Linked DNA regions of Homo sapiens. The protein of the gene in region 4 purifies or fractionates together with the protein of the main gene of each other region. This does not show direct contact. Each region holds a gene or a part of one and is shown on either strand. Other genes may lie near its edges.

Region 1 (3,500 bases), about 27 Mb from region 4:
CTAATTCACCCCAGCCGAGCTGCTCCCCGTGGCCAGCGCTGTGCCTCAGCCCATGCCAGAGCTGCCCCACAGGCCCTAGCACTCCCCACTGTTCAGCCACAAGCGACTTCACCACCATCCCTGGCCCTTCTTGGGGTCCTGCCACCTGGGAAGTGGTGGGCGGATGCACGCTGGATGAAGGGTCTCGCCTTCTCCAAGGGTTGCTTGGGCAAGGCCTCCCTTCTGAGAGAGTCCCAGAGAGGCTCAGGGCCGCAACCTGAGGAGTGGGGCCGGACGGGGGGTGGGGCCTAGGACTACCTGGTCGATGGTTGAAGGGCGAGGGTACATCACAGCTGCCCGCAGAGGCCGATGCGACTCTTTCCTGCTGCTTGAAGAACTCCCTTGGGTTGTCAGGCCGCTGGGCAATAATAGCTGCTGCCTCCTGAGGGCACGAGGAAAAGGTTGGGGCTGGGCCAGGCAAGCTGAGATAGCCCTGTCTGCCTCACCTGGCTGGTGCCCCCAGCTCTCACCTCCACCTCCGACTCTGACTTCTTCATGTGGGTCTCTTCCTCCTCATCCCGATGGTCACCCTAGAAACCAAAGGGACAGTGTCTGGTGCACCTACCCCCCACAGGGGCTTTTGGCCTTCTTTTTTACTGTATTTTATTTATTGATTTTGTTTTTAAGACAGGTTCTCGCCCTACCACCCAGGCTGGGGAGCAGTGGTACAATCACGGCTCACTGCAGCCTCTGCCTCCTGGGCTCAAGCAATCCTCCCACCTCAGCCTCCCGAGTAGCTGGGACTACAGGTGTGCACCACCATGCCCGGCTAATTTTAATTTTTTGGTAGAGATGGGGTCTCCCTATGTTGCCCAGGCTGGTCTCAAACTTCTGGGCTGAAGGGATCCTCCTGCCTTGGCCTCCCAAAGTGTTGGGATGGATTACAGTCATGAGCCACCAGTGCCCGGCCTTCTGGCCTTCTTTTTTTTTTTTTTTTTTTTTTGAGACGGAGTCTCGCTCTGTCGCCCAGGCTGGAGTGCAGTGGCGGGATCTCGGCTCACTGCAAGCTCCGCCTCCCGGGTTCACGCCATTCTCCTGCCTCAGCCTCCCAAGTAGCTGGGACTACAGGCGCCCGCCACTACGCCCGGCTAATTTTTTGTATTTTTAGTAGAGACAGGGTTTCACCGTTTTAGCCGGGATGGTCTCGATCTCCTGACCTCGTGATCCGCCCGCCTCGGCCTCCCAAAGTGCTGGGATTACAGGCGTGAGCCACCGCGCCCGGCCCCTTCTGGCCTTCTTACAGCCCCCATGCTTCTTTCGCAATCTGGCAGGAAGGGTTTCAGAGGTGGTACCTCTGCCCCGTCAAACCCTGTCACACAGCCCCTCTCTTCCCTCAGGGCCCTCAGCCACCTCATCTCTGACCTGCCAGGCCTCTGGGCACCAGGCTCACTCACTCACTTGCTCATCCCCATATCTAAGCAGGTGCCTAGGGCCCTCCAGAAGTGCTCCTTGTTTTGCAGATAACTTCTTGGACCTCCTACCCTAGTGCCGGGGCCACCATGCTCCCAATGTTGCTGCCTGGACCGTGGCATCATGGTCCAGCCTTCCTCACTGCTACCTGCCTTATTTGCTCTCCATAGGCCCTGAAAGGACCTTTCCAAAATGCGGATCAGACCATGATTTTCCTGAGCTTAAAATCCCTCAGGGGTTCCCATGAGCCACAGCAAGCACTGGCTAAATATGACCCACAGATGGCTTTTGTTTTGCTGGTATGATATTTTTAAACCATGTTCATTAGTTACCACCACTTAAAAACCAGGAACTTTCATACTGAGATGAGGGTCCCAGTTTCTCTTGAGGTGACAGAGCCCTGGCGACATCACCTGCAAGCCCGGAGCAGCCATCACCGGGGCCTCGCCGCAGCCCCCTTAAGACAGGCGTGTGCCACCCGCTCACCCCCGGCCCCACCATCGCCTACTGGCTTCACCTGCCCACTGCACACGTTGTTTTGGGTGGGCAGCGCCCGCACTTGGCCTACGTCCCCCACCCCTGCCTGACCTAGCCGTCACCTCTCCAACACCACCCCCTGCCGGCCCCCACCCCAAGGCTCCCACATACTGTGAGATGTAGACATCAAGTCCTCAGCACGACGCAGTCAGTTCCCAGAACAGGCACACCCGTTCCCACCTCCAAGCCTCAGCATGGGAGACTGGCCTCCCTCCCAAATGCCTGCTCCCCACCCGGGGGCCAGGCCCTCTGGTTTCCAGCTGCAGCGTGGCCACTGCTTCCTGGGGAAGGACCTCTGAACAAGAGGCTTGTTCAGGTCATTTCCTCCTCTGGGTCCCCACAGGGTGCTCCTGGCTTCCACCACGATGACACCACATCCTAAGTTCCTGTTTCCGGAGGCACCTCCCCCCTCCGCTGTGAGCAACGCAGGATGAGGACCGGGGTCTCCGGGTGGGTGGCCAGCACAAGGCGGGCGCATGTTTGCTCAACTGCACTCACACACCAAAGGCTTCTTAGTCGGTGTCCCCTGCTGCTCAGGTGGCAGCTTGGGCAGGAGGGGCTGCTAAGGTGGTGAAGTCCCAGGGCTGCTCTGTTTTTGAGCCTATAATCTAAAATTTTAGCTTATGTCAGGAGCACTGGGAGAAGGGCCCTTCGTAGTATCCCACCTCAGGAGGGCTATCACCTCAGTGATAACTTTGTGACCCCCAGAATGAAGTCTAAACTCCTCCTCTGCCCTTGCTCTCCTTTCCCAATCAAATCTCCCCCACTCCTCAGCCCACGGGGTTCCAGTCAGCCTAGGCTCTTCACCTTCCCATGAGCCTGTGTCCCACCAGCCTTTGCTGCTCTGCCCACTGCCTGCTGTAATCTCAGTTGGTTCCTCTGCCTTGTTCAAAGAAAGGACCAGAGGCAACTACCACAAAGGCTTTTTTTTTTTTAATCTGAGACAGAGTCTTTCACTCAGGCTGGAGTGCAGTGGCGAGATCTCGGCTCACTGCAAGCTCCGCCTCCCGGGTTCACGCCATTCTCCTGCCTCAGCCTCCCGAGTAGCTGGGACTACAGGCGCCCGCCACCACGCTCGGCTAATTTCTTGTATTTTTTAGTAGAGACGGGGTTTCACCATGTTAGCCAGGATGGTCTCGATCTCCTGACCTCATGATCCGCCTGCCTTGGCCTCCCAAAGTGCTGGGATTACAGGCATGAGCCACTGAGCCCAGCCCTCCACAAAGGCTTTAATAAACTACCAACCATGTGAACACTGAAACAAGTAAGGCCCAGAGGGAGGAGAGAGATCAACGCACTAACCACATGGGTCAAAGCCACTGCTGTGCCTAAAGCATTTTCAGATACACGGGAGCTCCCCTGCAGGCCAGGCAAAAAGGGAACTCAGATATGGAACACAATTCGTAACAGGGGAGAGAAAGCAACAGCTCCTTAAGCCAAGAGAAAGCATTTCACAGTGCTAAATCCCAAAGTCTCTCGCATATTCCCTTCCTTAGAGGACCTGAAATTGAAAG
Region 2 (3,500 bases), on a different chromosome or scaffold from region 4:
TCCCAGGAGCTAGGGTAGAGCTCAGAAATGCTGGGAGGACGGCACTCTTTCGAGGGCCATTTCGAGATGAGGAAATTGCTCCAAGAAAACATCTCTGTTTGGCCAGGCGCGGTGGCTCTCGCCTGTAATCCCAGCACTTTGGGAGGCCGAGGAGGGCGGATCATCTGAGATTGGGAGTTCGAGACCAGCCTGACCAACATGGAGAAACCCCTTCTCTACTAAAAATACAAAATTAGCCAGGCATGGTGGCGCATGCCTGTAATCCTAGCTACTCAGGAGGCTGAGGCAGGAGAATCACTTGAACCCAGGAGGCGGAGGTTGCAGTGAGCTGAGATCCCTCCACTGCACTCCAGCCTGGGCAACAAGAGCGAAACTCCGTCTCAAAAAGAAAGAAAACATCTCTGGCAGGGGACATCTAGCCACTGCATTCACACTTTTGATGACAAGCCCCCTTGAGAGCCCATGATGTCTTCAGGGGTTCCCAGTGGCCAGGAGACTCTTCATGCTGCGCTAAATCAGCCTGTTAGTGCTTCCCAGGCTTGAGCTCTAGGCTCACACTCAGTAAGCATGGATCCTTCCTTCAACCACTAGAACCCATCAGCCCCTGCCTGAATCCCCTTTTCAGGCTAAGTAGCACGTTCTAGCAATCTCCAAGGTCTATCACATCCTAGACAGGCCTCTGAAAGTTCAACTGGCCAATGGCTCTTTTCCAGATCCTCCCCCAGTTAAGCCCAGGTGTCTAGATGAGACCCAACAGGGCAGAGTGTGGCCAGCCCCTGCCTTCATCTTTCCCAGCACCCCCACTCCCTGGCTCCTCCCCCTGCTTCTTTGGCTGTGAGACAGGCAGGAGGTGAGAGTGGCAGCCAGGACTGAGGCAGGCTGCGGCTCCTTGGAGTCCCCCGCTCTGCCTGACTCTGACCCGGGGCTCCGCAGGTCCAGCAGGTGCAGGACGACGGCCACCGGCTCCAGAAGGCCTACGCTGGAGACAAGGCTGAGGAGATCGGCCGCCACATGCAGGCCGTGGCCGAGGCCTGGGCCCAGCTTCAGGGAAGCTCTGCCGCCCGCCGGCAGCTGCTGCTGGACACCACAGACAAGTTCCGCTTCTTCAAGGCTGTCCGGGAACTGATGCTCTGGATGGATGAGGTCAACCTGCAGATGGATGCCCAGGAGCGTCCCCGGTGAGAATCCCAGGGCTCAGGGCCTCCACGGGTTGTGTGGCTGGGCTGTGATGGGGCTGTGGGCAGCAGGTGATGCTGTTTCTGCCTCCCCCCAGGGATGTGTCCTCCGCGGATCTAGTCATCAAGAACCAGCAAGGCATCAAGGCAGAGATAGAGGCCCGGGCAGACCGCTTCTCCTCCTGCATCGACATGGGGAAGGAGCTGCTGGCCAGGAGCCACTATGCGGCCGAGGAGGTGGGTGAGGCCTGGGTGGCCGGGCCATTCTCACTGTGCAGTGCTGAACGCTGACTTCTTGGTGGCTTTCTGCTTCCTCTCATTCTCTCTTTGCAAGAAACCTTTCATTCTCTCCCCTCAGTGCCATTCACGGGTTTCTCGCATTCTGGAAATCTCTCCCCAGAACCGTCTGCCTCTTGACATCAGAAATCACTGGTCCTGGGCCAGGCATGGTGGCTCACGCCTGTAATCCCAGCACTTTGGGAGGCCCAGGCGGGCAGATCACCTGAGGTCACGAGTTCGAGACCAGCCTGGCCTCCATGGGTTGTGTGGCTGGGCTGTGATGAAACATGGTGAAACCCCGTTTCCACTAAAAACACAAAAATTAGCCGGGCGTGGTGGCGGGCACCTGTAATCCCAGCTACTCGGAGGCTGAGGCAGGAGAATTGCTTGAACCTGGGAGGTGGAGGTTGCAGTGAGCTGAGATTGCGCCACTGCATTCCAGCCTTGGTGATAAGAGCGAAACTCCGTCTCAAAAAAAAGAAAGAAAGAAAGAAATCACCTGTCCCCCTGGATGACTCCCCAGGGGCCGTGGAAAGATCTCACATCCTGGTGCTAACTCATATCTCTGCCCCCCGCCCCCAGATCTCAGAGAAGCTGTCTCAGCTGCAGGCACGGCGCCAGGAGACAGCTGAGAAGTGGCAGGAGAAGATGGACTGGCTTCAGCTGGGTGAGCTGCCAAGGGGGCCCCAGGCCCTGTGGGGAGTGGGGGGCATCCTGCACCCTGTGGGTTCCAGAGTAGGTGAGACTAGGAACCCTGGGTGTGAAACTCACGATGCCCAATCTTCGTGCTGCCTGGCACAGCTCTGGGGCAGTGGCTTTCTCTGTGTCCCTGTTCTTGAGGTTGCCATGGCCACTGTGCCCTGCCAGTGGCCACTCTGACCCACCATCTTCCTGCAACCCCCGATCCTGCCAGTTTTGGAGGTGCTTGTGTTTGGAAGAGATGCAGGGATGGCAGAGGCCTGGCTCTGCAGCCAGGAGCCACTGGTGCGCAGCGCTGAGCTGGGTTGCACGGTCGACGAAGTTGAGAGCCTCATCAAGCGGCACGAGGCCTTCCAGAAGTCAGCAGTGGCCTGGGAGGAGCGATTCTGTGCGCTGGAGAAGCTTACTGCGGTGAGGGACACAGGACCCCGGATGCCCACTCCAACCTGCTCCCCTGACCTGTGCTGGCTTCTGCTTGGAGAAGACATGTCTTCTCTCTTCCCACTGCACCAGTGGCCCCCAGATGTGAGCTGAGAGTGCCATTGTCACCACACCTTTAGGAGGTGTCAGTTCCCCTGGGTGATGCCGAGACACCTTCTCCCGCTTTGTTTCTTGTCCCCACCATCTTCTCAAATTCTGTTCTCCTCTTATCATATTTCATCAAATTAGAGTTGAGACATTTCAGCTCTCCCTGTTTCCCTGGCCCTCTTACACGCAACCTTCTACACGCTGAATGCAGCATTTTTTGACAGCTAGAGGAGCGGGAGAAGGAGCGAAAGAGAAAGAGGGAGGAGGAGGAGCGGCGGAAACAGCCGCCTGCTCCCGAACCCACAGCCAGTGTGCCTCCAGGGGACCTGGTGGGCGGCCAGACAGCTTCTGACACCACCTGGGACGGGTGAGAGCCAGGATGCCTGGGTAGGAGGAGGCGGCTGAGCCCAGGCCACCCAGGGACTAATGATTCTGTGTTGCCTTTGGTCATCCCAGAACCCAGCCACGGCCACCACCATCCACACAAGCACCCAGTGTTAATGGAGTCTGCACAGATGGAGAGCCCTCACAGGTGACCCCACTGTCCCTCTGTGCCCCCATCGGAGTCGTAGCCCCTCCACCCCCGCACATCCTTTTACAGATTCTTGTCCTTGCAGCCCCTGCTGGGACAACAGAGACTTGAGCACAGCAGCTTCCCCGAAGGGCCGGTGAGTTCCCCTGCAAGTGTGGTGTTGATAACTGTGAGGCGAAGGGTCCAGAGGGGGTGGTGAGTGCGGGTGGGGGAGTACTGGGGATGGGATGGGAGAGGGCAGAGGCTCACAGGCAGCTTGGGGGCAGGAAGACCAACTCCTGGACACG
Region 3 (3,500 bases), on a different chromosome or scaffold from region 4:
ATCTACAAATTCAATGCAATTCCCATTAAAGTACCACCATCATTCTTCACAGAACTAGAAAAAACAATCCTAAAATTCATGTGGACCCAAAAAAGAGCCCGTATAGCCAAAGCAAGACTAAGCAAAAAGAACAAACCTAGAGGCATTAGATTACCTGACTTCGAACTATACTGTAAGGCCATAATCACCAAAACATCATGGTACTGGTGTAAAAACAGGCATATAGACTAATGGAACAGAATAGAGAGCCCAGAAATAAAGCCAAATAACTTCCAGTCAACTAATCTTCGACAAAGAAACAAAAATGTGAAGTGGCGAAAGGACACCCTGTTCCACAAATGGTGCTGGGATAATTGACAAGCCACATGTAGAAGCATTAATCACTTTTGCAGTCTGAAAATACGGCCCTTTTCAGGAATTAAAATAATGTAATTTTCCCTGACTACGCTATTCCTGTAGTACACTGATGGCCATAGAGTAGGGTGCTTAATACTAGATTTCACAGGGCATGTAAGGTTCTAATAAGCGCTGCTACTACGTTTCTTTAAAAAATAATTTTTAGCATACTAAACTTATATGCATTATTACAAAAAAGTCTTTTAGTTTTTAGGCAGTTGTCTCTAATAAAATTGATTCGTAGTCTAGAGATCTTTTAGAGATGGTTAGTAAAACCTGAAGCACTATGCTGTTCCTCCCCCGTGGTGCTGAGCTTCTGCATCCTCTAGCTTGGGAAGGAAAAGGGAGTTGTTAGGCCTCTGCAGATACTTCCTTTTTTCCTATCCTGTCTCTCTTCCTTCCCTGGTTTCTTCTACAGCATACTTTCTCCTGGGGAAAGGAGTGCGTGCGTGCGTGTGTGTGTGTGTGTGTGTGTGTGTGTGTGTGTGTTTGTGTGTGTTTCATCAGGTCCTTCCATTAACTTCCATTCTTTTTCTTTTTTTTTTTTGTTGAGTCTTACTCTGTCGCCCAGGCTGGAGTGCAGTGGTGCAATCTCAATGCAACCTCTGCAACATCACTGCAACCTCTGCCTCCCAGGCTCAAACGATCCTCCCATCTCGGCCTCCTGAGTAGCTTGGACTACAGGCTAATGCCACCACCGTTGGCTAATTTTTTGTAGAGATGGGGTTTTGCCATATTGCCCAGGCTGGCCTTGAACTTCTGGGTTCAATGATTTGCCCACCTCAGCCTCCCAAAATGTTGAGATTATAGACTGAGATTATAGCCTCTAACTTCCATTCTTAAAAGTCGCTCATCTGTAACCAGGAAAAAACAATATAGAGAGACAGATGGCAGGAAAATCAGTAGCTGTGCAAAAATGGAATGTTCAAAACGCGGAAGAAAAAACTGAAACATTGTGAAGAGTCTTTTGGTTCCTTTTTTAGAGGACAATTTTTTACTTGGAATTTTTGAAAAATCTGTTTTCTCTACTTGAGATGGCTTCTCTTTCTGCTTTTCCCCCAGTGTATTAATGAACTATATCCTGCTACTTACCTCAAGTCAGTTTATCCAGTATAGAACTTGCCTTCACTCCTCACCCCCAAATCCACCTGTTGGGAACTTTTCTGTTTCAGTACCAGCATTCTCAACTTCATCTAGGCTGAAAACTGCAGTTGTTTTTAACTCCTCTGTTACTCTCATCTCTTACAACCAGTCAGTTGCGAAGTCCTATGACTCAGTCATTACTAGATTCCAGATTTTTGGACTTTAAGGACCAGAAAAATTTTTAAAAACTTGTTTTTGGTAGACTGACCTAGGATTTTAATATTTTATTTTTCTTAGTAAATACATTTTAAAAATCTCAGACTACTGTCTGTTATGATTACTATTTAGTTCTCTTTCCTCCCGAGACAGTCTCACTCTGTTGCCCAGACTGGAGTGTAGTGGCATGATCTTGGATCACTGCAACCTCTGCCTCCCAGGTTCGAGCAATTCTCATGCCTCAGCCTTCTGCGTAGCTGAGAGTACAGGTGTGCACCACCGTGCCCAGCTATTTTTTGTATTTTTAGTAGAGACGGGGTTTCACCATGTTGGCCAGGCTGGTCTCAAACTTCTGGCCTAAAGTGATCTACCCGCCTCGACCTCCCAAAGGCTGGGATTACAGGTGTGAGTCACCATGCCTCGCCATTGGTGAAACTGTTTTGATGTTCTGAATTGGATATGATATGATCCTCTATTTTTGAAACCTCATAGTACTTTTTATGCCACTTATAGTCTGCCTTATATATGGTTATTTATATACTTACCTGGTCCTAACCATATGGTCTTTTAGGGCAGGAGGACTAAGTATTTCTCATCTTTTTGTCTGTTGCAGGACTTAATAGAATGCTAAAGTGTTTTTGCCCATAAGGAATAGGAACACCACTCATACAAGTCACAAGTAAAAGAGAGGTATATTGAAAGGACAAAGTAGGCAACTTCATAGGTGTTAGACATTCAAGAATAGGTAAGAAATGAAATACAGGTAGGTTGTATGTACATGGACTGTGATACCCAACCCCCACCCTCTCCCCTATTTCTCCTAGAGCAGAATGGCCTCCCCCGAGTCTTCAACTTTTGTTTACTCTGACATCTTCTGTGGCTCACGCACCGCCTGACCCGGTAGTTCAAGTGCTTCATGTTATCTGATGCAGGCTCCCAGGATCCCATTCCCGGTTCCTGGTAAAGAGTATCAGATTGGCCCAGCCTTGTCATCTGCCAACCACAATCCAGTCATGTATGGTTGGGTATAGCAGAGTTGATGGGGTATCATGAGTTTTATAAGGTGACCCTTTCAAGGACTGGAGTAGGTCAAATTCTCTATTAAATGCATGGCCAGAGAGTTAATGTTTAATAAAGAGATGACAGTGCCTGACACCTAGTAGGCACTCACTAAATATAAGTTGAACATAATGGAATGACATGGGAGTATTGAGGAACTAAACATATCACTGCTTTACTTTCTCATTAGTTCATGAGAACGTGCCTGCTCATTCTCAATATTACCATCTTGTATAGTTGGGAGAGAGAACTTAAATTCAGATTTAAAATTAGGCCAGGCATGGTGGCTCATGCTTGTAATCCCAGCACTTTGGGAGGCTGAGGTGGGCAGATCACCTGAGGTCAGGAGTTCCAGACCAGCCTGGCCAACATGGTGAAGCCCCGTCTTTTCTGAAAATACAAAAATTAGCCAGGCGTGGTGGTGCACACCTGTAATCCCAGCTACTTGGGAGGCTGAGGCATGAGAATCGCTTGAACCTGGGAGGCGGACGTTGCAGTCAGCTGAGGTGGAATGACTGCACTCTAGCCTGGGCGACAGAGTGAGACTCTGTCTCAAAAAACAAAAACAAAAACAAAATTTAAAAATAAATTGAAGTAGGGTACAGGATTTTAAAGTCCCATTATCAACACATTCAACTCAGAATAGTTAATGTAACCTGAATTTAATTACCTTTGATTTTAATTTAGGAATGAATTTTTTAAAATGCATATAACCAGCTCAGGGTCTGTGCTTCATCATCACCCTG
Region 4 (3,500 bases):
TTGAACCTGGGAGGCGGAGGTTGCAGTGAGCCGAGATTGCGCCGCTGCGCTCTAGCCTGGGCGACAAGAGCAAAAACTCCTTCTCAAAAAAAAAAAAAAAAAGTCAGGCAAGGTCATTGCCCCTTGGAGCTATGCTGTAGGTGAGGAGACAGATAATAGACAGGGAAACATAAAGATCATTTCAACTTGGTGAATGCTATGGAGAAAACAAAACAGATGGGATAGGAGAAGGAAAGGTGCCTCCAGAGAGGGGACATTCCAGCTGAGACTTGAGTGGCAAGATAGGAACCAGCATGGACTGCTACCTGGGAAAAGATTATTCCAAGGAGAGCGAGCAGCAAGTCCAAAGGCCCTGGGGCAGGAACATACTTGGCATTTTCAAGGAAGAGAAAGCAAGCCAGTGTGGCAGAGCCTAGTGAGAGAGGAGAAGGCAGTGGGGAGGAACTGGGGACACGGTGGGACTTCTAGGGTGAGGTGTTCGTACTCAGTTTGGTAAAGTGCCATATCAGCAACTGTCAGGGGGATTCCAAATCAGGGACCAGTTAATCCTGAGAGGATAATCAGGGTGGCGTAGACGTGGTGGCATTTGAGTTGGGCCATGAAAGGTAGGTCAGGGCTGATTACGAAGTGAGCTAATTCTAAGAAACAGTGAGTGACGATTAAATTCCAGAAGAGATCCTGTGTAGGAAGGGCCGAGGCGACCATCTCTGTCTGCCTGTTTGTCCGTGCACCCCTGTGTCACTGCATTCCTGTTTGCTAACTGGGCTTTTGTCCCTCCCTGTAGCGTTGGGCCGGAGCACTAGCCTCACGGAGAAGGATCTGAAAGAAGCCAAGGCGCGGAGCCAGCAGATTGCAGCCCAGCTGACCACCCCTCCCAGCTCCAATTCCCGTGGCGTCCAGCTCTTCAACAGGCGCCGGCAGAGGGTGAACGAGTTCACCTTGGAGAGCCACGGCCAGAGGGGACAGAAGCCCAGCCAGGAGTCCCTCAGAGTGCTCCCTTCAAGCCTCCCAGGCCATGCACCGGGGCTCAGCCTGAGTTCCACCTCGCTGCCGGAGCCAGGCCCTCCACGGCACCCCAGTCCCCAGAGCCCCGACAGAGGGGTCCCTGGCCACAGCATGGAGGGGTACTCAGAGGAGGCTAGCTTGCTGCGGCACCTGGAGAAGGTGGCCAGTGAGGAGGAAGAGGTACCACTGGTGGTTTATCTAAAGGAGAATGCAGCACTGCTGACAGCCAATGGGCTGCACCTGTCCCAAAACCGAGAGGCCCAGCAGTCCTCACCGGCCCCACCTCCAGCTGAGGTCCACAGCCCAGCTGCAGATGTCAACCAAAACCTTGCCTCGCCCAGTGCCACGCTCACCACACCAACTTCTAACAGCAGCCACAATCCGCCAGCCACCGATGTCAATCAGAACCCACCGGCAACTGTTGTCCCACAGAGCCTGCCACTTTCTAGCATCCAACAGAATTCCTCAGAGGCCCAACTCCCATCTAATGGCACAGGGCCTGCTTCCAAACCCAGCACCCTGTGTGCTGATGGGCAACCCCAGGCACCGGCTGAGGAGGTGAGATGCAGCACACTCCTAATTGACAAGGTATCAACTCCAGCTACCACCACCAGCACCTTCTCCAGAGAAGCTACGCTCATCCCCAGCTCCAGGCCCCCAGCCTCAGATTTCATGTCCAGCTCCCTGCTCATTGACATCCAGCCCAACACCCTAGTGGTGTCAGCAGATCAAGAGATGTCTGGGCGAGCAGCTGCCACCACGCCCACCAAGGTCTACAGTGAGGTCCACTTCACACTGGCCAAGCCCCCATCAGTGGTCAACAGGACGGCCAGGCCTTTTGGGATCCAGGCGCCAGGGGGCACCAGCCAGATGGAGAGGAGCCCCATGCTAGAGAGACGACATTTTGGGGAGAAGGCCCCGGCTCCCCAGCCCCCCAGTTTGCCAGACAGGAGCCCCCGGCCACAGAGACACATAATGTCCCGCAGCCCCATGGTGGAAAGGAGGATGATGGGGCAGCGAAGCCCGGCCTCAGAGAGACGCCCCTTGGGGAACTTCACTGCACCCCCCACCTACACTGAGACCTTGTCCACAGCCCCTCTGGCTTCCTGGGTGAGGTCTCCTCCCTCATATTCTGTCCTGTATCCCAGCTCCGACCCCAAGTCTTCTCATCTGAAGGGCCAGGCGGTTCCTGCCAGCAAGACGGGCATTCTGGAGGAGTCGATGGCCCGCCGGGGCAGCCGCAAATCCATGTTTACTTTCGTGGAGAAGCCCAAGGTGACCCCGAATCCAGACTTGCTGGATCTGGTACAGACAGCGGATGAGAAGCGGCGGCAGAGGGACCAGGGGGAGGTAGGCGTGGAGGAGGAGCCCTTCGCACTGGGGGCCGAGGCCTCCAACTTCCAGCAGGAGCCAGCACCTCGTGACAGGGCCAGCCCCGCGGCGGCGGAGGAGGTGGTACCAGAGTGGGCCTCCTGCCTCAAGTCACCCCGCATCCAGGCCAAGCCGAAGCCCAAACCCAACCAGAACCTCTCCGAGGCCTCTGGGAAGGGAGCTGAGCTCTACGCCCGCCGCCAGTCACGGATGGAGAAATATGTCATCGAGTCTTCAAGCCACACGCCAGAGCTGGCCCGCTGCCCATCACCTACCATGTCCCTGCCTTCCTCCTGGAAATACCCCACTAACGCCCCCGGGGCCTTCCGAGTGGCATCCCGAAGCCCAGCCCGGACCCCGCCTGCCTCCCTCTACCATGGCTACCTGCCTGAGAACGGGGTCCTGCGCCCAGAGCCCACCAAGCAGCCGCCATACCAGCTGCGCCCCTCGCTCTTTGTCCTCTCACCTATCAAGGAGCCTGCCAAGGTCTCACCAAGAGCTGCCTCGCCCGCCAAGCCCAGCTCCTTGGACCTGGTGCCCAACCTGCCCAAGGGGGCTCTCCCTCCATCTCCTGCCCTGCCTCGGCCCTCGCGCTCCTCACCGGGCCTCTACACCTCCCCCGGCCAGGACAGCCTGCAGCCCACTGCCGTGAGCCCTCCTTACGGCGGTGACATCTCCCCCGTGTCTCCCTCCAGGGCGTGGTCTCCCCGAGCCAAGCAGGCCCCCAGGCCCTCCTTCTCTACCCGGAACGCCGGGATCGAGGCTCAGGTGTGGAAGCCTTCCTTCTGCTTCAAGTAACGAACCCCACGGGGGTCCCACTGCCGGTCAAGTTCCCCTCCTTGAGGGCCAGATGGAGAGCAGATGTGGCAGGAAATGGCACAGAGCTGAGTGAGGAGAATGGGGAGTCCATGGTTCAAGGTCAGATGCGGCCACCAGCTGGCTTTGTGACCTTGGGCGAGTCGCCTCCCCTCTCTGAGCTGAAGCCGCCCCTCCCCTACTACAACAGGGGTCGGACTCCATGTCTGAGCGGGGAGGAGGGTCATGGAGAGAGAACTGTCTGGCAGCCCTGATGCGGTAGAGGGGCATCCTCTGGCCTTTGTGAGCTGTAGGGATGCAGAGTCTGA
Region 5 (3,500 bases), on a different chromosome or scaffold from region 4:
CTCTCTCCTGGTTGTTAAAGTCACCACATGTAAAATCTCTCACAATTGAAAGCAAATTTCAGGGACACAGTGCACATCCCTTTCTCTGGGGACCTGGTCACTCATTCATTCATCCAGAGACAGGCACAGACAGGCTGTGACACAGGAGCTGGCAATGCGGTCTCCACGTGGCCGGAACTGAGCGGCTATCTGGAATAAAGGGAGGGATTGCAGCGGCTGGAGCCATGTGGAAGGTGCCAAGTCCTGATGGAAGGGTTGGAACTGAGACTGCACAGGCAAGAAGCCTGGCTTCTGATGTGCTCTGGATCTTTAGGCAGAATCACTTCATCCCTCCAGGGCTCTGCTTCATTCAGCTGTAAATGAAGTGGTAAGACCAGCTGATCTCTGAGAACTATTCCAGCTCTAATTAATTCTAAGCCCCCATTTACTCAACAGAAAGACTGTGGTACTTTCATAGTGTTTGTGTCTCTCATAAAATATTTATCTCTTCCTACTCTGCAGGGTAATTTCAGTGTCTGTGCTAGACTGTGTCTGTGCTAGACTGTGTCCATGCTAGGACTATCATTTGGGAATTGTAGACTAAAACCATCATAACGTATTAGCTAAATGACCTGGGGCGGGGCTTTTGGCTACTTTCTTTCTTTCTTTTTTGTAGAGACAGGGTCTCACTTTGTTGCCCAGACTGGTCTCAAACTCGGGCTCAAGCAATCCACCCACCTTCGGCCTCCCAAAGTGCTGGGATTACAGGCAAGAGCCATCACACCCAGCCAAGCTTTGAACTCAGTTTCTTCATCTGCGAATAGAAATATTAATGCCTTTCCTGCCTGTATCCCATAGGGTAATTGTGAGGATCAGTGTTCACAATGGGTGTGAACAAGTTCTTGTAAAATATGAAAGGGTGCTCTGCATAAGGGATTATTATTATGCTAAATTGCTTGGAGACCTAGGCTCCTTGTGTTACTCATCGAGGACCCGGCAGAGTGCTTGGCTCTTGGAAAGTACAAGAAATGTTTGCTCGGTGAATAAATAAATGAAAGTGTGAACAAAAGGTAGAAGCCCAAGATGGGCAAGATACAAAGGGATTCAATCTGCAAATGTGTTGTTCTATAAGCACCACCCTCCATCCTACTTCCACACTGAAGTGTTCAGGAGTTTACCTGTGAAGGACGAAAAAGCAGAGACTGTCATGTCATTCTGCTGTTCAGGCCCAACGAGTTACCTGCGGAGGTGGCAGTGAAGAGGGTTTGGTGGCCCTGACCCAGTTTTTGTTCTCTCAGCCCTGTGATGCTGCTGAAAACTCCACTCAGCTTCTCAGCCTAATAGCTGCAGCCCTTTGTTGGTTTCTAAGCCTCTTTGCACAAACCAATAACAAATCCACAAATGCCTGGAGGGGAAAAGATGTCAGGCTGACTTCAATGAGTCTTCTCTTCTCTGGGATCTTGGCCCTTGGTATCCCTCCAAAGCCTCCAGAAAGATGTTTTGGTCTTTCTCTAACAGCTCTGTTTGTTCTCCGTGGGAGGTTGAATCTGTCATAAACTAGTCCATCGTAAGCAGAAGTCGAAGCCCATGGGCATGTTTTTAACAGCCCTCAGTTGGCAACAAGCAAGTTTGAGAGTCCCTGAGCCAGGCCAATATTCTCATGGAGCAGAGGGGAGCCTGAGCCCCAGCCACGCGCTTTGCTAATATGACAGCTGGGTCTCAAACACTGGGTGCCTGATGTCCACGCCAATGTGCCTCCCACGGCACCAGGCCAGTCCCTCCAGAGGCACCCCTTTGTTTTATTTTCTTCTGTCCTTGTAAGCTGGCCAGTTGCCTTTGACCATAAGATGTACCATGGGCTCCTCCTGGGCCATGCACTGCCCCTCCCATGGGTGGGCAGTGCTGATGCCCGAGACACTGGGCACTCTGCTCACCCCACCCCCTCCTCCCTATCCAAGCTCAGACCACAGAGCCAGCCACTCCATGGTCCCAGACGTGAGGTCAGCTGTGGCTGGACCCTAATGAGCCTGGAAAGCCTGATTACAGCCTGTGGCTTCCTGAGTAATCATGGCCGCCCCCCTCCACCGGACTCCAGGGTGTGCCGGTCCCTCTCCTTCCCACGCACCTCGGCCACTGTTGCCCATCTTCCTTGGTGGCCTGAAGTGCCTTCCCTCAGCTCAGAGCAGCCACTAGCCCTTCTCTAGCCCTTCTCTCCTCTGCCCCTCACCCCTGCCTTGTTATTGGCAGGGTCAGTGGCACCCCGGCCTGGAGGGGCCTTGGTCAGCCTTTGTCCACATTCCTTGCCCCCACACTAACTACTAAACTACAGTTGTTGACTTCCTCCCTAGCCAGACCAGGTCACGCCTGCTGTCAGTCCTCTGCCCGCATGACTCATGCCTGGCCTGGAGGGCAGGTGGTGCCCTGCTCACCTAAGGAAGGCAGCCTTCTGAGTCCCCTTCTCACTCAGTGGGGACCCCAAAGCACTCTTTAGAAAAAGGCTCTGGGGTCTTCCTCCTCCAGGCAGCACCTAGGATTGCAGCCTCTCCTTCCTCCAGGCAGTGCCTAGGATTGCAGCCTCTCCCTCCTCCAGGCAGTGCTGGGAGTGGCACAGGAGCCAAGGTAGCGGCATGGGGGAAGGAGATTGGGTCTTAGAGCCTCTCGGGTCTGGATTGGAATCCTGACGCCAGCACTGTTATCTTGAGCACGTGGCCACCCGCTGCACCTGCATTGTCATCTGTAAAATGGAGCAACAGCCTCCTGCCTGGGACATAGCAGACACTCGACGAAGTTGGCAAATGTCACTGCTCTCATGTCCCTCCCTTCTCCACCCTGTGGGAGATTCAAGAAGGCATGGAGCAGGCAGAGAGTGAGCAGGGCTGACTATGGCACGCCAGCACCGAGCAGCTCCATCCGCCAGCCGTGACACGGGCAGCGAGGGAGGCTTCTGTCGGCACCACAGGCACCTGTCAGTAGCCCACGCGGAGACCCACAAGATGTAGACAGGCCCCCGATAACATCGTCCACTCTATCTTCTCCCGGCCGCTGCCTGGGACACCTCCCACTCCCATCTGGGTTCTCAGAGATGGGGTGAGAAGCGGCAGCTGTGGCTTAGGGGTGGATATAGAGAGGGAGGGAACCCTTCTCCCTGCATCCTCCCTCCACTCACGCTAGGCTGCAGCTCCTGGGCAATGAAGGGAATGATATGACTGAGGCTTCTGCATAAACATCCACCAGGAGCATGTGGGCGCTTGGGCCTCCACACCTAGGGAAAGACTCCCCAGAGCTTTCCGGGAAAGAGGAGCTGGAAGGGGCTGGTCGGGAGGAGGGAGAGTTTTTTCTCCTTTGCTGCTGGCACAGAATCCCTTAGAAATCACAGATAGCCGGGCGCGGTGGCTCACGCCTGTAATCCCAGCACTTTGGGAGGCCGAGGCGGGTGGATCATGAGGTCAGGAGATCGAGACCATCCTGGCTAACAAGGTGAAACCCCGTCTCTACTAAAAATACAAAAAATTAGCCGGGCG
Region 6 (3,500 bases), on a different chromosome or scaffold from region 4:
TTACAGAGCCAGTAACTAGTAGACCTTGGATTTGAATCCAGCAAGGTGGTCTCCAGAGTCTGTGTGTGTGTGTGTGTGTGTGTGTGTGTGTGTGTGTGTGTGTGTGTGAATCAGGAAGATAGATTGTGTTTCATTATGTGTCAATTGCTATTTAAGGCCCCCCAAAGGACTAATGAAGGATTTGAGTCTGCCCTTCATTGCTCCTAGGTTCCCTGGCCTTGTGCAGACTGATCCGGAGTCCGCCTTAACTACTATGCCCTCTGTCTAGTGGCCTGTCTTGACAATATACTGAGGATTGGGGTTAAGAAAATAGTTCCCTCTCCTGAAAGACTGATTGATGTTCTTCCTTCTACTATCAGACACCAAGAGTCCTCCCATTCATCTTGTCCCCCCCTTTCCCCTTGGCTGCCATGAGTCATCTCAGAGCCAATTTGAGTGTCCAAATACAGTTGTCATCTTCAGCCAGGGCACTGGCATAATTTTCTCTCTTTATTCTCTGTATCGGGTGCTCTTAACCCGGACTTTTGAATAGGCTTCAGGGGAATCACACACCCACTGAAATGATATGCAAATTGTTGTGTATATGAATATATTCATTTTTGTGGAGCAAGAATTCATAAGCTCTAATCAGATTCTCCAGGAGTTTCGTGATCTTAATCTTCAGGGTTTCTGCCTGTCTTTCTAGAATTTCTGTTCTTACTAGTTGCATTGGTCATGTAGTTTATTTTTTAAGCCATCTCAAGCCTTTTTAATGCTGTAAGTGGAATACAATGTAAAACCATAATAAGCAAATGCGTGCAATGTTGCTATCCATTCTGAATTTTTAAATCTCTCTTGGTTTGCATGGAGGAAGTCTGTCCTCACGTCTCCCTCTCTCTTACCTTCACTTTGCACACTTCTGAGTGGTTTTGATGTCTCAGGGTCTCAGGTGTCTCAGGTTCCCATCCCAGCACTGCCCAGGCACCCATCTTGTGCTCATAGATCCAAACTTGCAAGAAGTTTGCTGACCAGAAAGAGCCCTTGATTTTGATCCAAGGCACAAATGAATTCATTTGTAGATTTAAAAATCCACTATCTTAATGCAATGGCCAGGAGGAAGCTTTGTGGTAACTAGCACTCACCTTGGTGTTCAAAATGTGGTGGTTTGTAGATACTAGTCAACACCACCTGACTAGATGTTTATTAGAGCTTATTAGGAATTATTAAGTTTATTTTCTAATCAACTTATTAGAGCTTATTAGAAGCAAGGAGCTTTTTAGAAACTCAGACTCTCAAGCCCCATCTCATACCTACTGAACCAGAATCTGCATTTCTGAAAAGATCCCAAGTAATTTCAATGCACATTAAAGTTAGAGAAGCACGGATATAAAACAAGAAGACTCATTTCTCAAGTTTGTCAAACCCTGGAGAGCACTTCAGTTTTCTGGAATTGGATGACCTGGGACAATTCCTACTAGGGTTCACTGTCCCATTACAAAAGGTAGGTAACAATACTTGCTGTTCCTCCCTCATGGGGTTACTGTGAATTTCAAATGAGCTCTTGGATTCACACTAGCTACGTATCATGATGGGGCTGATAGGAGCTGGAGAGCTGGCAGTGGGGAGCAGAATAGGTGTGGTCTCTGCCCTCATAGAGCTGATGATTTGGTCGGGTAGGAGAACATGCTGTAAATGCTGGTTGGTGTTGTGTGACTGTCCTGGTTATCACAGAGCCTTCATTCATTTATTTCATGCATTCATTCATTCATTCGGTGGTCAGCCATTTATTAAAACCTGAAGTGCCTGTACTATGTCACACATTAAGCTCTGAGCTGCACATGGGGAAGCAGAAATAAATGAGTCAGAAACCTCGTCCTCAGGGAGCTTTTAGTCTAGCCAGAGACAGAGATACATCATTGGGTGGTTCCATTTAGAACACACTCTGGCTGGTGCTCTGAGTTGGCACAGGGGGCTGTGGGGGTACAGGTAAATCAATGAAGAACTTTGCTTTTAAGGGTGATTACAAGTTCACAGACTGAGAAGAGGGAGAACAGCACTGAAGGCCGAAAGAACAGCAGGGGAAAGGCAGGGAGGCATGAAGGCACAGCATGCTTTTGCCATGGCCAGAAGGTAAAGAGAATTTGGAGGAGTGCCTAGAGATGATTTTGGAGAAGTAGCTTGAGGCCCGGTCTTAGAGGCTAATGAATCTGGTCTTTATCCCTTAGGAAATGGGGAGTCCCTGAAGGGAGACAATTGACGCAGGTGAAGATCTTTTAAGAGCAGCATGGAAGAAGGAATGACTTGAGGCAGAAATACCTTTAAGAGGCTCTGAGAGCAGCTTAGGGGAGAGAGGAAGTCCTTACTGGGGTACTGGATGTGGCGATAGAAATGGATGTAAGAGAAATTAAGGAAGGTAGCATTGACAGGACTTGGTGGGCAAATGAATGGGGTGGTGAAGAGAAAGGAATCAGGAGGCAGAGATGTCTATAGATGAGGAGCACAGTCCAGCTTGATGCAAGAATTAGGGAGTTGGGAGGTGACTGGAGTCGTGGGAGTGAATGAGACTGTGAGAGTGTGCGGTGGAAAGAGAATAGGGGTAGGAGTGGCACCAAGGCACCAACAGCAAAGCGATGGGCAGCAGCGATGAGTCTATGAAGGAGGCTGAAGGATGCCCAGAGGCAGTTCTGCTTTCCTTCATTCCTTTGGGCATGGAGAGCAACAACGCAGTGGTCACAACTCATCACCCTCCAGAATCATCGCTAGAAACGGCCCTGGGGTCACCACCCTTGAAGCCCCAGAGTGAGTGGGGCCTGAGGCTGGGGCCCCTGAGAACATGAACTGAGACAGGGATGGACATGCGTGGACGGACGCAAGCCCTTGTCTCCCTCTCCCTCCCTCTTTCCTCCTCACAGATGGTAATGTCCAACCCTTTCACAAATCATTTTTTTCTCTGAAAGAAAACCAAAAGGACATAAGAGAAGGAGAAACAAAAGGCATGCTTGAGTTTGTTTAGTTTTTCAGATCAGACAAAAACCCAGCAACACCTAACACGAAAGAAAACCTCCCAGACCGTGTCCTAAGTTGACTCCAATGAGCTCATTCTCTCATTAAGAGCAAAGAGAATTAGGTTCTATCATGATTAGCCAAAGGAAGATTTTACAAAACAAAACAAAAGAGAGGAAATGGCCCGGAATTGTGCTATCTGGTTCATGCTTTTCCATAGAAACAGGCCTGTGGTTTTAAACTGATAATGGCTCCTAGCAGCCCAATAATTGATTTATCTGGTGTTCTGGCTTTAAGGGAAAAGTAAACTGGCCTCTTTAGAAATGTTGGCAGCCTGGCTGGTCCATTAGTAAGACTGAAAAGTCAAAACATTGACTGGAAAAGGCCATTACGACCGGGCTCAGCAGGAGTCATCGATAGATGATGTCATTTCAGAAATAAATAAGCCAAGGTTATGAGGCCCCAGAGCAGGGTCAAAACACTCTTCACAGCCCATCACCATCCTCCATCGCAGATAC
Region 7 (3,500 bases), on a different chromosome or scaffold from region 4:
ACAGCTAGGGAATCTTTCAAACAAAGCAGCTATGTTATTTTCTCCAATGCACATGTTGAAAATAAACTAAAAATTAGATATTTATCATGCCTTAGAGAGAAGATAACAGACTGCAAAACTGACGAGTAGTTTTTGTCTGACTCACTTTTCAGTTTCCTGTCCTGAGAATGTATAGTTGACAGAGCTAAAAATTTGAATCAGCCATAGTGTGTCCCGCAGGTTCTGACCCCATGACCATTGCATAATTTGGTGCTTGGAAGAGCCATGGTAATTCTGAGATACTCAAGATTTAGTCATCTGCTTCCTTAAGAAGTTAAAGCTACAGCCCGTGGTCCTCTGGATTTTGTTGTGCTTCTAGTGGACATGAGAAACATGGAGGTCAAAACCCAAAACTCATTTTCATGTTTCTGTGTTGAGACAGTTTTTCCAGAGGCTTGGATCTACAAATCAGTTTTTTAAGTGAAGGATGTTGGCAGCACATTGTAACTGAATACCTTGCCTTGAAACATCATGGATCTGCAAACAGCTGTGTTGAGTAATGAAAGTTGAGCTTCTGGCCCCAGGCATATTATGTAGATTACAAACCCAAATAACATTTTAAAACGTATATAAATAATGTATTCAAAAGTAACCTCAGGGAAATCAAAGTCATGGCTGCAGTTACACTAAGTAATTGGTGTGGGAAACATCTGTGATTTGTGTTTGTCCCTCTTTGCAGAAATGGAAGACAGCTATGAAACAGACACCAGCTCCCTCACCAGCTCCATCCATGGTGCATCCAACCACTGCCCACAGGATGCCATGATCCCTCACGGCGACACAGATGCAATCCCAGTAACATTCATAGGGGAAGTTTCAGATGATCCTGTGGATTCGGGGTTGTTTTCCAATAGAAACAACAATGCTGGGTCTTTCGACTCGGAGGGTGTTGCCAGCAGGAGAGACTCCCTGGCGCCACTTCAAGCTGAGCACAGCCAGCCCCATGAAAAGGCAAGGGAGGAAGTACCTGCCCTGCACCCCGCTTCCCATGACGTCGGAAAAGGAATCCGTGTGGCCTTATCTAACATCTCTAAAGATGGGAATCTAATGGAAACGGCGCCCAGGGTGACTTCTTTTGCTTCGAATCTTCACACAGACAACCTAAATGCAAAAGTGAAAGACAAAGTGTATGGCTGTGCTGACGGGGAGAGGACTCAAGCCACAGAGAGAGTGAATTCCCAACCGGTGAATGAAAAGGACAGCAACGATAAAAACGCTGCCTTGGCACCAACATCATGGCACCAACGAGGCCAAAACCCAGGGAAAAGCTACAGACTTAAGCACGGCCTCACAACGTATAAAATCATTCCTCCAAAGTCAGAGATGCGATGTTACGACAGAGATGTGTCCCTCTCCACCGGAGCCATTAAGATTGACGAGCTGGGGAACTTGGTGAGTCCTCACGCCACCGGCATCAGGATCATTTCCCTGTCTTCGTCTGTGCCTGAAGCAGAATCTCAGCCCATTGGGAAAGTCAGAGAGTTCTGGAGGTGCAACTCTGTGGAAAAACACCTGGGCCGACCCTCAGAGAGCTCTGCCAGGGGACCCCCCTCCACCCCTGTGCCCACGCAGACGCAGAATCCAGAGAGCAGACTCCAAGCAGACCCCAAGCCAATATCGCCCCAGCAGAAGTCTGCCCACCATGAGGGCCGGAACCCCCTAGGGGAGGGGAGAAACCAGCCCCCCACCATGGGCATGGGTCACGTGAGGGTGCCAGCAGCTCACACCACAGAAGTCACATTTCTCAAGCCTCAGAGAAGAACGTCCAGCCAGTATGTGGCCTCTGCCATTGCCAAGCGCATAGGAGCCCCAAAAGTCCATGCTGATGTGGTGAGGCCACACGGTTATGCCGAGAAGGGTTATGCAGGCAAGGCGCCAGTGCTGGCTGCACCACCTGTCACTGTGAAAGATGACAGGACATCCAGCCCACACTCAGAGACACAAGGATGGAAGGATGGTGCCCAGTGGCCCTGTGTCACTCCTCCCAACAACCACGGGGAAGATTTGGCAGTGGGAGCCCCTCCTAGGGGGGAGGTCATTGGCCCACACAGGAAGTTGTCTACTCAGGACAGACCTGCTGCTATCCACAGAAGCTCCTGTTTCTCACTGGTTCAGTCTTCCCAGAGGGATCGTGTTTCTGTGGGACAGAGCTGTGGTTTCAGTGGAAAGCAAAGCACAAGTAGCCAGGAGGCCAGCTCAGCATCTGAGCCCAGACGCGCACCTGATGGTACAGACCCACCCCCTCCACACACATCTGACACTCAGGCCTGCAGCAGGGAGCTGGTCAATGGCTCTGTGCGCGCCCCAGGCCACGGCGAGCCTTCCCACCCTCCAGGAGGGTCTGGCACAGAAAGCCACATTCTCCTAGAAAGAGAGGAAAAGCCCAGTGTGTTCTCTACAGATGGAAATGAAACAGACAGTATTTGGCCACCCAGCATTTTTGGGCCGAAGAAAAAATTCAAACCTGTTGTCCAGAGACCAGTCCCAAAAGACACATCCCTGCACTCTGCCCTGATGGAAGCCATCCACTCTGCGGGAGGGAAGGACAGACTACGCAAGGTGAGGATGGCGGCTTCCGGGGCAGGCCTTCCACACCTGCCCACTTCAGTGCACTGGTCTCAGAGTCTCAGAATAAAGCGGAGGAGAGAGAGAGACGGGATTAGGATAACAGTGAGGCTTACCACACAGGTTTCATTTTAACTAGAATTCCCATCATACTGCCTCCAGATATTTGTACTGAACTATTAAAGGGACAAAATGGATGGGTGTGAGGCTAGTCCACACTGACTTCAGGCCCCTGGCTGCCCTGTGGGAAAGGTAACAGCCAGTGATGTCCATCCACAGGGCCAGAGGAATGGAGAGGCCAGGGGCAGGCCCATCCATATGGTTATCCTTGAACAATGGAACAGAGGAGAAAATTCAGGCAGGGCCACTTCTTTCCCATATGCATTTGTAGCAGCAGCGAACTGTCATTCTTCAGTAACACAGGAGTAATTGTAGGACACGCCTTGCCCATTGTCTAGGCACTTAACACACCACAAGTATTATCTCATTTGCATGCTACACCAATGCTAATAATGAGATATTTCTTCCATTTTGCAGATGAAACTGAGGCACAGTGAGGCCAAGGGGCCTCGTCCAAGGTCAGGCACTAGTTAGTGGGGGCCATGGATTCTCTTCTGGGTCTGCAAGATGTAAACACACACATCGGCTCTGGAACACTGGGATGAATAGCAGGAGTGGTCTGCCATTAAGAGGCAGTTTGAAACTACGTAGCCTTTGATTCTTATGTGTGCCTTCTCATAGACAGGGTGTAAAACTGACCCTATAGGCCTCGGCTGACATGAGTGGATTTTCTTTCTTTTTTTTTCCTGAGACGGAGACTCACTCTGTGGCCCAGGCTGGAGTACAGTGGCACAATCTTGGCTCACTGCAACCTCTGCCTCCCGGGTTCAAACAAT

The links.
Region 1: the proteins of SYNPO (region 4) and DBN1 purify together in Homo sapiens (affinity purification with mass spectrometry; one large-scale study listed by BioGRID and IntAct). This does not show direct contact.
Region 2: the proteins of SYNPO (region 4) and SPTBN2 purify together in Homo sapiens (affinity purification with mass spectrometry; one large-scale study listed by BioGRID and IntAct). This does not show direct contact.
Region 3: the proteins of SYNPO (region 4) and GNAI3 purify together in Homo sapiens (affinity purification with mass spectrometry; one large-scale study listed by BioGRID and IntAct). This does not show direct contact.
Region 5: the proteins of SYNPO (region 4) and SCARA3 purify together in Homo sapiens (co-immunoprecipitation; one large-scale study listed by IntAct). This does not show direct contact.
Region 6: the proteins of SYNPO (region 4) and TMOD1 purify together in Homo sapiens (affinity purification with mass spectrometry; one large-scale study listed by BioGRID and IntAct). This does not show direct contact.
Region 7: the proteins of SYNPO (region 4) and COBL purify together in Homo sapiens (affinity purification with mass spectrometry; one large-scale study listed by BioGRID and IntAct). This does not show direct contact.

Annotation. Positions count from the first base shown.
Region 1 is NC_000005.10:177,460,135-177,463,634, forward strand, and holds part of DBN1 (drebrin), read right to left. Parts: intron 2,293-3,500; exon of another isoform or gene 2,098-2,292; intron 570-2,097; coding exon 510-569; intron 422-509; coding exon 298-421; intron 1-297. UniProt on the Homo sapiens protein: Actin cytoskeleton-organizing protein that plays a role in the formation of cell projections. Required for actin polymerization at immunological synapses (IS) and for the recruitment of the chemokine receptor CXCR4 to IS.
Region 2 is NC_000011.10:66,687,717-66,691,216, reverse strand, and holds part of SPTBN2 (spectrin beta chain, non-erythrocytic 2), read left to right. Parts: intron 1-933; coding exon 934-1,178; intron 1,179-1,273; coding exon 1,274-1,412; intron 1,413-2,036; coding exon 2,037-2,121; intron 2,122-2,367; coding exon 2,368-2,564; intron 2,565-2,905; coding exon 2,906-3,048; intron 3,049-3,137; coding exon 3,138-3,213; intron 3,214-3,298; coding exon 3,299-3,349; intron 3,350-3,500. UniProt on the Homo sapiens protein: Probably plays an important role in neuronal membrane skeleton.
Region 3 is NC_000001.11:109,555,115-109,558,614, forward strand, and holds part of GNAI3 (guanine nucleotide-binding protein G(i) subunit alpha-3), read left to right. Parts: intron 1-3,500. UniProt on the Homo sapiens protein: Heterotrimeric guanine nucleotide-binding proteins (G proteins) function as transducers downstream of G protein-coupled receptors (GPCRs) in numerous signaling cascades.
Region 4 is NC_000005.10:150,647,160-150,650,659, forward strand, and holds part of SYNPO (synaptopodin), read left to right. Parts: intron 1-784; coding exon of another isoform or gene 785-1,116; coding exon 1,117-3,144; coding exon of another isoform or gene 3,145-3,174; exon of another isoform or gene 3,175-3,500. UniProt on the Homo sapiens protein: Actin-associated protein that may play a role in modulating actin-based shape and motility of dendritic spines and renal podocyte foot processes.
Region 5 is NC_000008.11:27,664,902-27,668,401, forward strand, and holds part of SCARA3 (scavenger receptor class A member 3), read left to right. Parts: intron 1-3,500. UniProt on the Homo sapiens protein: Seems to protect cells by scavenging oxidative molecules or harmful products of oxidation.
Region 6 is NC_000009.12:97,504,666-97,508,165, reverse strand, and holds part of TMOD1 (tropomodulin-1), read right to left. Parts: intron 1-3,500. UniProt on the Homo sapiens protein: Blocks the elongation and depolymerization of the actin filaments at the pointed end. The Tmod/TM complex contributes to the formation of the short actin protofilament, which in turn defines the geometry of the membrane skeleton.
Region 7 is NC_000007.14:51,026,810-51,030,309, reverse strand, and holds part of COBL (protein cordon-bleu), read left to right. Parts: intron 1-718; coding exon 719-2,598; intron 2,599-3,500.